Linked DNA regions of Homo sapiens: region 2 is linked to region 1. The links come from fine-mapping of genetic effects on gene expression. Tissue or cell type: gastroesophageal junction. Region 1 holds a variant in brackets; the other region holds the start of a gene. All regions are shown on one strand. Distances are between the middles of the regions.

Region 1 (5,383 bases):
GCGCCACTGCACTGCAGCATGGGCAACAATGCAAGACTCTCTCCCAAAAAAACTTTTGGGAGTTTAATTGGGATTGCATTGAAGCTATAGATCAATTTGGGGAGAATGAATCTTAACAATTGTAACAGTTACCTATTGCAGCATAGCAAACCACCCAAAACCTATTGACTTAAACCAATAATCATTGGTTCAGCTCACAAATCTGTAATTTGGTCCTGTCTTAACAGTACGTGTTTGTCTGCTCCACATGGTGTCAGCTGGGGGTTGGTGGATCATCTCCCAAGATGGTTCACTTACATAGCTGGCAATTGGTGCTGGATGTCTAAATGGGAGCTCAGCTAGTATGAAGGCCAGGGGTCTCTGCTCCTCTCCATATAAAACTCTGCCTCTCCATGGCAATGTGGCTTTCTTACATCCATTCCAAGAGTGTGAATCATCCCAAGAAAACCAGTCAGAAGTGTATGGATATTTTATGACCTACCTTAGAAGTCACGAAGCATCACTTCTGCCATACTCTAGTGGTCAACCCAGTTGTGTAAATGTCCCCCCAGGTTCAAGGGGAATGACCGTAGACCATTCAATGGGAAGAGTGTTAATGTTACATTGTAAGAAAAGCATATGGGAGGGAATATATTATGGTGTCCATCTTTGGAAAATGCAATCTGCCACAACAATATTGAGTATTTCAATCAATGAACATGATATATCTCTCAATTTATTGAGGTTTGCAACATCTCTCAGCAGTGTTTCATAGTTTTCCAAGTACAAGTCTTGCAGTCATTTTACTACATTTATTCCTAAATATGTCAGGTTTTCTCATGTCATACTAGCATTCCTCTGTTTCGCTCCGTCTCTCTCTCACTCACACACACATACATATACACACATACAAACCTCAAGTATGAAGTATGTTTGCATGGTTCCCATGTCTATACTTATTCCTGCTTAGGAAGCTCTATCCAGACCTATCATTTATTCATTTAGTCAAACAATAAATAACATAATTTCAATCAATGAAAAGTAAATGAACCAAATAGAGCAGAGTGAGGAGATGGGAATGATGGCATGGGAATGGGATTTATTTTAGACAAGGTGTTCCTCTCTGGCAAGATGTCATTTGAACAGAGACATGAATGATGTAAAGGAGCAGCATCTCTATCCACAGAGACCTGGGTAAGAACATTCTGGATAGAAGGACAAGCAATTTCAAAGGCTCAAAGGGAGGAATAGGCTTTTTTTTTTTTTTTCCAGAAGATAGCAAGGCCATTGTACCTGGAGTGCAGTGAAGAAGAAACTACCAAAACACAAAGTTGGTGAGATTGTTAGTCTTATACTAACTGTCTTTTATAACCTAATCTCAGAGGTGACATACCATCACTTCTGTCATGTAATATTCATCACACAGACCAACCTTGATTCAATGTGGGATGAAGAAAATGCCAGAAGAGGGGATGGGTCACTGGGGCCACAATGATTTTTTGCAGTTTTTGATCTTTTCATTAGGAATTGGGGAATGGAAATTCCTGTATCTGACTTCCTTCTTCCTTATCTACCCAGTAGTCTCTTGCACACTTGTTTTCATATAAATTTTCAAACCTATAAAAAATAGAATATATTGAACTCCCAATCAACCAGTTTCAACAATTCTGAACACATGGCTGTTCTGTTTCGTCCATGTATTCTCCATTCTCTCTAACTCAGATTATTTTAAAGCAATCCAAGATTAAATATCATTTAATCTGTGAATATCTCTAAAATGTGACCCTTCCTTATTCTTAAGAAAAACCACAGTATGATTATTACACCTGAAAAAGTTAACAATAAAGCTTTACTATCCAATTAGTGTTTAAATTTCCCTATAATATTCTTTCAAAGTCGGTTCATTTGAATCAAGATCTAAACAAAGTCCATATATAGTTCATAAATGTAGTTTATTATATAGTTATGTAAATAACTATATAAACAGAAAAAAGTATAAAAATAAAATGTACTTAGGGTCAGCTGCATATTTAAGAAATAGGGAGGAAATTACCTTTGCTCTTCTCTTCAATCCTAAACAACATGTTCCCTTGAATTCAGGTCATTACCATGAGTGTCATCCATTAGGAGTTAACATAATGTTCTTTCTACAGGGAAATGTCATCTAACCTCTAAACAAACAATTTAGAAGCAAAGTTGTGGAAAGCATTCCTTTAGTAAATTGAGAATGCTAGAAAACATCACCTCACATGTCCTCAGGCTAATGAATCCAC[T/C]TAAGGCACTCGATGTAACATATCCAGATTGGCCATGAAACTAAACCAAAGTATCACTTGAATCTTATGAACTGCACAAATTCCCTGCAAGGAAAACATACGTACATAATTATCTCACTTGTTGTAACTTAAAAGGTGTTTCTGAAGAAAAAGGTGCAGCAAGAACCAAGTAAGACAAAAATACTTCCTTAGAAATAATCTGGCATCTCTAGCTGTTGTTATGATTGTCCCTGGAAACGAGCCAGAACAGATTAATAAGTATCTGACTGTTATGAGCTGCCAAATAAAGGCTAAGAAATTAAACCTACGATTCAGAAAAGAAAGAGTCAGAGAAGTTAACAGTGTTTTCTTAGTAGGAGAGAACTATTGTCAACTCTCAGTTTTTTGATGAGCCACAAAAATATCACTTTGTTCTTTTTATACAATAGAAAACAAATGGAAGGAATATAATAGGAAATGCCGGGTGTTTATAAAGAACCTTGAGCACTCAGCAGATTTTCTTCCATTGCTTTCTATAAAATTCTTGTTGGATGAATAGAGGCAGATTGGGAGATGGATGCCTTACTTTTTCTGCTTAATGTGTTGAAAAATTAATAGAACACTTATACAATCATAATGCCTTCAGTTTTAAAATTAAATACTCTAAAAGGAATATTTTATCCACATCCTGTTATGGCGTACTAGGAAACTTGGGGCCCAGATGGAATTGCTTGGGTCCCACAGTTGGCCTGTGCTAGAACTGGGACAGGGCCAGAACTCCTGCCTCCAGGAGAGGGGTTCAGACTGCTTCCCCATGAGATGGCTTTGCTAACATCCGAATCAGCCATTATCAGGAAGAAAATGCTAAAGTAGTCACGGCCATTTTACTCTATAATTTCCTTTGAAATGTTTCGGAAATAGATGCATTTAGACATTTGGAAAAAGCTCACATAAAATATAATCACTATCCCTTCACCTGTTAGTACTGAACTCTTAGACTATGGAGAATCAAGTTTCCTGAACCATCTCCTATGTTATAAATCTGTGAAGAATCTGTTGTAAGTGATTTGAATGTACTATCTAATAGTTGGCATTCTAATCAGGATAATTACTAATGATTGCAATTGGTCATTGCAATGCCCATAATCTATCTATAATCTTGCCTGCCACTCACCTCCTGTTGTGTGGCTCAGTTCCTAACAGGCTGTGGATCAGCACTGGGAGTCAGAGACCCCTAGATTATACCGTATAGCCTAGGTATGTAGTAGGCTAGACCATCCAGCTTTGTGTAAGGCCACTCTATGATGTTCATACAATGACAAAATAGCCTAACAATGCATCTTTCAGAATGTGTCCCCATATTAAGTGACACATGACTGTACCTTCCATTAGGCCCCATCTCCCAACACTGCTGCACGGGGGATTAAGTTTCTAACATTTGAACTTTAGGAGACACGTTCAAACCATACCAACCTCCTTTTCCAAGTCCTCATGGAATTGATGAATCCAGTATAGATGAATCAACAGACTGAATGTGTATCAGTGAAGCCTTCCTGTGGTTTGCTTTATGAAACTACATAGATAGAAAAAGGCCAAGGTTGGATTGTCTCCTATGGAAAAGTTTAACTACTTGAGTGGATTGCTAAACCTGGGACATACATTAAAGCCACTGGCTGCCTGTTGATCATGACAACTGTCTACAGATTAAGAAGGAGGCCAGCCCAGCTTAGTAGCTGCTATGATTCAGAAGGATGGGGCTGCACTATGAGGGTAGTATATTCAGAATAATATGTTGACAGGCCAGACCAGCACTATGGGAGGCTGAGGCGGGAGGATCACTTGAGGCCAGAAGTTCAAGACCATCCTGGCCATCATGGCAAATCCCCATCTGTACTAAAAATACAAAAAAATTAGCTGGATATGGTGGCACACGCCTGTAATCCGAGCTACTTTGGAATCTGAGGCATGAGAATCGCTTGAACCCAGGAGGCGGAGGTTGCAGTGAGCCAACATGGCACCACTGCACTCCAGCCTGGGTGACAGAGTGAGACTGTGTCTGAAAAAAAAAAAAGAAAATACAAAATAATATGCTGACAGATGACCTGAGTTCTCATGACACTTCCTAGGTGATGATGCCATTTCAATCTATAAATAATGAAGGCTATAGTTTCTTGCTGCTCTTAGAAAGGCTAATGCTATAGCTTTCTGCTAAACATTTTCTTATTAACCTTTGCCAGCATCCTGAGCTTGATGGTTTTCATGGCTTAGCTTACCCTCCTCTTAGGGATTTCTTAATCACCAAACTCTCAGACACTATTTTCAAACAAATGAATGAGATCCCCTGGGGACCTGAAAGAGCTGCCAGACCTCTCAGAGTGATTCGGCTGATGAAAGTGGGAGGCCAGAGGTCAGGAGGTGTGTGCCCAATGGGCGCTGTTTCCATGGGTTACTGAGCTCTAGTACTTGGTCCACAGAATTGAGTTCACTTGTCCAAGGCTACTGCCTGCAAGACAGAGACAGCTGGCCCCATCCTTGCATTTGTAAGGATAGGCACGATTCATCAAAATACTATTCTATACTTGGGAGGCAGACGTGGGAGGATCGCTTGAGCCCAGGAGTTCAATGCTGAAGTGAGCTATGATTGTGCCACTGCATGCCAGCCTAGGTGACAGAGTGAGACCCTGTCTCAAAAAAAAAAAAAAAATACACACACACACACACACACGTATATGTATTCTGCTTGGGCCAATAAATGGGCCAGAACAAGACAAAAAGCAGGGGTAACCTGAGGGTTACTTCTAGATCAAGCAAGAGAAGGAAAACATCAAATCCAGATCTGGAAGTGAGGTCAGAGAACATTAATGAGAGGATATTCCAGAAGGTTAGTGATTGAATTTTTTAAAAAGAGCGGGTGGGGTGTCAATAACCAGGTACTACCAGTCATGTAGCAAAGGGAATTCAGGAGCAATGGGCAGAGTCTTGGAAGTAATAGAGTGGGTAATGAAGGATAGGGAAACTGTTGCCAAATGGGAGGGAGCAGCGGGGGCAGGAGTTGGGAAGTGAATGAGTTAAGATCTAACAAAAAAATCAGAACTGGAAGGAGACACCTCCTCTCTGTTTCTGCCCATCTTGGATCCGGGCTGTCCTCTGGG
Region 2 (5,383 bases), 30 kb before region 1:
AGCAAGACTGAAAGTTAGCTGGGCGTAGTGGCGCGTGCCTGTAGTCTCAGCTACTTGGGAGGCTGAGGCAAGAGAATCGCTTGAACCCAGGAAGCGGAAGTTGCAGTCAGCCGAGATCATACCACTGCACTCCAGCCTGGCCACAGAGCGAGACTCCGTTTCAAAAGAAAAACAAAACAAAACAAAAAGTGGAACTTTATGTTATCTTTACAAAGGGAACTTAAGCACGGCCTTTGGGTAGAAAAGGAGAGAGCAGAGAGCTCCTCCTATGCCTGTTGCTTCTTATTTGCTTTCAGCTCAAAACAATCCTTAGCCTTATTTTCACTCGTGTCCGTGTGAAGAGACCATCAAACAGGCTTTGTGTGAGCAACAAGGCTGGTTATTTCCCCTGGGTGCAGGTGGGCTGAGTCCGAAAAGAGAGTCAGCGAAGGGAGATAGGGGTGGGGCCATTTTATAGGATTTGGGTAGGTAAAGTAAAATTACAGTCAAAGGGGGTTGTTCTCTGGCAGGCAGGGGCTGGGGTCACCAGGTGCTCAGTGAGGAAGCTTTTGAGCCAGCATGAGCCAGGAGAAGGAATTTCACAAGGTAATGTCATCAGTTAAGGCAGGAACCGGCCATCTGGATGTGTACGTGCAGGTCACAGGGGATATGATGGCTTAGCTTGGGCTCAGAGGCCTGACATTTATTTGTTTGTTTGGAGACAGAGTCTTGCTTTGTTGCCCAGGCAGTGGCACAATCAGAGCTCACTGCAGCCTCGACCTCCTAGGCTCAAGCAATCCTCCTACTTCAGCCTCCCAAGTAGCTGGAACTACAGGCACACACCAAGCCTGGCTAATTTTTTTTTCGTTTTTGTAGAGATGGAGTCTCACTATGTTGCCAGGGCTGGTCTTCAACTCCTGGGCCAAAGCGATCCTCCTGTCTTAGCCTCCCAATGTGCTGGGATCACATGCCTGAGTCACCACACCAGACTTCAAAGTGGCATATTTTAGAGTGACATATTCTGATCCCCTTTACTAGCAATTATCATTATTGCAATTTTACATTTTTTGTGTGTCTGTCTTCCTCACCAGTCTGCAAACAGTACCTGGTTTTGCACATCTCAGCGTCTAACCCTGTGCCTAACACATAGTAAATGTTCTATAAATAATTGTAGGATGTGTAAATAAAGGTGTTGAACCTGGGCTTTCACTTTTTTTTCCTTGCCTTGTTACTACCAAAAAGACAGCCACCCAAGGGACTGGATTTCTATTAAATCCACCCTTTACTGAGCCCTGCTGCTCCTATCTCTGGAGGTGGGTCCTCACCAGAACCCTAGTCCTGTATAGGAAACCAAGGAGCCAAGTGCAGACCACCCAACTAACCTTAATTATAGGACTGGGGATGGAGGGATGGAGGGAGAGAGGAAAAGGCGCAGTAAAATAATGTGCGCAGTGGCTCACACCTGTTGTCGTAACCGAGCGAGTTATAGAGAAACACCACACTTTGAGACTAATTCAGGAGTCCTTTATTGCCGGCGACCGAGAGACGACTACAGCTCAAAATTCTCTCGGCCCTGAAGAAGGGGCTAGATTTCTTTTTATACCTTGGTCTAAATAGGGAAGGGGTAGTCTAGCTGAAGCAATTTTTACAGAAGCAGAACAGGCAAAGAGTTAAAAGATAAATGGTTATAGAAACAGTTACAGGAAAATAAACAGTTCCAGGTGCATGGGGCTTAAATTATCACAAAGAGATAAACGCAGGGGCTTTGGGTACCATCAACCGAGCGCGTTCCCAGGAGCTGCTGGTACAGCTTGCCTCAGTATCTTATCAGTAAGCACATTCCTGGATGTGCTTGGTGTCAGTCTGCACCAGTTATGTCCTTAAGGGAGGGGGACAAGGTGCTGCAAGCGAAGAAACCAAAATGGAGTCTGTCCCGCTCTCTCAGCTAAGAGCGAGTCAATCAGGTTAAAACAAGGTAGGGTATCAAGCTGTAATCCCAGCGCTTTGGGAGGCCGAGGAGGGCAGATCCTTGAGCTCAGGAGACCAGCTTGGGCAACAAGATGAGAGTCTCACACCCCGCCCTGTCTCTACAAAAAACAAAACAAAACAAAACAAAAAAAAGCCAGGCATGGTGGCTCATGTCTGTGGTCCCAGTTACTGCGAGGCCGACGTGAGAGAATCACTTGAGCCCTGGAGATCGAGGCTGCAGTAGCCGTGATCACACTCCAGCCTGGGCGAAAGAGACCCTGTCTCAAAAAACAAACAAAACAATGTGAAATTAAGCCAAAAGCCATCACACGTGCATCCAAAGGACGGCCGCTACCCGCGACCCCTTCCCAACGCACGCGGGAGGTTGCGGGATCAGGGACAGGGGCTTCAGCAGGGAGCCCCCAGACCGGCCCTGACAGGAATTCAAGACCTGGCGCCTGCTCATTCCCCCAGTCGGGGCGGCGGCGGCAAGCCTCGGCCGGCGGCGATCTGCACACCCGCGGAGAAGAGAGGCAGGGGGTCGACCCCACAGCCCAGCCCGGCGCGTCCCCCGCGCCCCCGCGCGAGCCCGAGTCGCCGGCGGAAGTGCTGCGTCGCGCACTTCCGGGTGTTGTCTGGCCGCCGTAGCGCGTCTTGGGTCTCCCGGCTGCCGCTGCTGCCGCCGCCGCCTCGGGTCGTGGAGCCAGGAGCGACGTCACCGCCATGGCAGGCATCAAAGGTGGGCCTGGGTTGCAGGACGCGGGAGGGCTGGGGCCGGCGGGGGAAGATGGGCCGGGGGTCCCACGCGGCCCCCGCACTTCCCCTCCGGGCTCGCGCGCGCGCGTGGGGTCCCTGCGCCGGGGAAGCGACCCCCGCCCCGGCCCTGCGCTTGGCCCGGAGGTGGGCGCGGCGCCCTCGGGCAACGGACGGTTGCGACCCCGGCTTCGCCCCGCAGCCCCCACTTTCTGCCGATTTCGGCAGCCTCTCTCCCACCCATCGCCCCCCGGACAAAATATGAAGTGGTTGGCGGTCAGTGAGGAGTCCCGTCGCGACTTGGACGGCCACACACGTTTTGCAGGAGTTTGCATCCGAGAGAGAGGCAGGCAGAGCGTGGGATTGAGAAGGCTGAGGCTGCTAGAGATGCCAGCTATGGAAAACCAGTCATTTCCCACCGAAAGGCACAAGTGCGGTCTGCGGGCGCTGCACGGGTCTGCCCGAAACCTCGACCCCACGTCCACCCCGGCCGCCCGCGCCCGAGGCTTTACAGGCTCCCGAAACGGGTGCATTTTCATCTGCGGTGTCTGGACCCTAGAGTTGATCCTGTAGGCGACCCCAAAGTGCTCCTGGCTCTCTTCCCTCTCCGCAGTTGCACCCTGAGGCTTTTTCAAATTTCAAAATTTTTCTTTTTTTCCTTTTTTTTTTTTAAGAAGATAAAATACTGGTACAACTTAATGAAAAACTACTGGCTTATTCATGTATTTTCTTTTAAAAAAAGGAATGTTGCATTTGTTCCACCTGTTAGGTAGTTTTGTTGTCAGTGTGATGAGAAGCAAAGTTTTCAGCTACTGCTTAACTAATTACATTGATTTCTTGACCTGCCGCTCTGTAGAAGGGCAGTCAGGCAGGAAGCAGGTAACTTTGGGAGCAGTGGTTTTCTTTGTATTTTTTCTTCTCTAAGGAAAACTTAATCGAGTTTTTTTTCAGGGTCACAGTCTTACTGTTTCTTGTTTATTTTCAATGTCTGAAAACATTTCATTTCCCATATAAAACCTTGTCATTTAAGCAACTGGGATACTTTGTAATCTCCTTTTGAACTATGATAGACTCTAAACCCTTATGTGAAAGGCAGTTATTGTGAATTGCTGTGGTTTTTAGGATGTTGCCCGTTTCCCTGTTCTTCCCTGTTTCTTCAGTGTCAATAATGCGGGGGTCTCTTAAGAAAATAGCTTTGTAATTTACTTCTCCAGACCTAGGGAAATACTGCATTAAACTGATGAAGGTGCCTCAGGTGAACTGCACTTTTGATTTCAGCAGGATTTTCTGGTTGTTATGAGTCAGTATGTTTCTTTCTCTTGGCCTAATATCTTTATATTAGGAAGGAGTGTTGCTGTAATTAGAGACCATTAGGCATTGCTTGAGCCATTTGTCTATTACTTTTTGATATATTGGATTTTCTGGTAACTCCCAGGTTAGAGAAGTGGTCCCTCCTTCTACTCTAATTTCTTTGTAATCACAGAATCAGCATCTTGTCTCTAGAGAGTTTTGCTAGATAATTGGGCTGCTCCATGCCTAGCCTAGAGGCTTTGGGAGTAGAACCCAGACTTATCTAAGCTTTGTCTTCCAAATGTTGCATCACTCAATTACTGTATGAATTCTTGCCTTGTTGATGTGTCATTTAAGAAACAGCTTATATACAAATGATGAAGTGTATATATAAATCTTCCTAGTTGCCAATTTCATAAGATTGAAGAAACTGCAAGTTTTGAGAACACTTTTAAGCAATTTATTTAACCTCTAATTGGCTACCTTATTCGGTATGACTGGAAGATGAGATGTCACATCAAACTGTGTTATGAATATTTAAAAAAAATTTAGTATTTAATCCTGGCGCGGTGGCTCACACCTGTAATCCCAGCACTTTGGGAGGCCGAGACGGATGGATCATGAGGTCAGGAGTTCAAGACCAACCTGTCCAAGATGGTGAAACCCCATCTCTACTAAAAATACAAAAAAATTAGCTGGGCATGGTGGCAGGCACCTGTAATCCCAGCTACTCAGGAGGCTGAGGCAGGGAATTGCTTGAACCCGGGAGGCAGAGGTTGCAGTGAGCCAAGATTACGCCACTGCACTCCAGCCTGGGCAACAGAGTGAGACTCTGTCTCAAAAAAAAAAAAAATATATATATATATACACACACACACACACACACACACACACATATTTAGTATTTAATGGAGTAGAAGTATTATCTCAAGGTATCTTGATTCCCCCAAACAAATGTTATTCCAGTATTCATATTCATAGCACTTACAATAAGACAATCTTGGTTTATGTTTTTAAAATTGTTTTTTGATACCTGAGCCTTATCTCATTTTAGTCCCTTGGTTTTTTTTTTTTTTTAAGGAATCATTTTTCATTAACTTTGTAAGAGTGTAATCAAAGAATTTAGGCCTTCTTTTTTGATAAAAACTTGAATGACTGTTCTCTGTCACAGAACAGCCACCTTCAGAGGCCCTCATGGTCCTAAGGTGGCTTGCCTCTTGCGGAGATTACCGTGAACATGCTTTTTGAGATTTTTCTGCCTGGTTTAAATTTTTTTTGTTGTTTCCTCCCTCCTGTCAAAGGGCAATTCTTGCTTGTATGCAACTCTTTCTCCTAATTCCCATTTGTTTCAGTGTGGGAAGATAAACTTAGAAAATTTTGTGTCACAAGGTAT

Direction of the effects. Alleles are on the strand shown, and positions count from the first base shown. SD is a standard deviation of normalised expression in the study named.
With allele C in place of T in region 1, the expression in gastroesophageal junction of the gene that starts at base 2,566 in region 2 is lower (moderate effect, 0.50 SD a copy in GTEx).

Evidence for each region.
Region 2: it holds the start of LEPROTL1, and the variant in region 1 is fine-mapped to the expression of LEPROTL1 in gastroesophageal junction (GTEx, PIP 0.96).

Annotation. Positions count from the first base shown.
Region 1 is chr8:30,122,750-30,128,132 of GRCh38, forward strand. It overlaps a transcript of LEPROTL1 not described here. Among named protein-coding and RNA genes, the nearest start is that of MBOAT4, 19 kb to the right of the region's middle. The variant T/C (reference allele first, on the strand shown) is at 2,253.
Region 2 is chr8:30,092,843-30,098,225 of GRCh38, forward strand. LEPROTL1 (leptin receptor overlapping transcript like 1) reads left to right here and starts at 2,566. Exons shown (of 4, transcript NM_015344.3): 1 at 2,566-2,686. The coding sequence starts at 2,671. RefSeq lists an enhancer at 129-298 and a silencer at 2,414-2,873.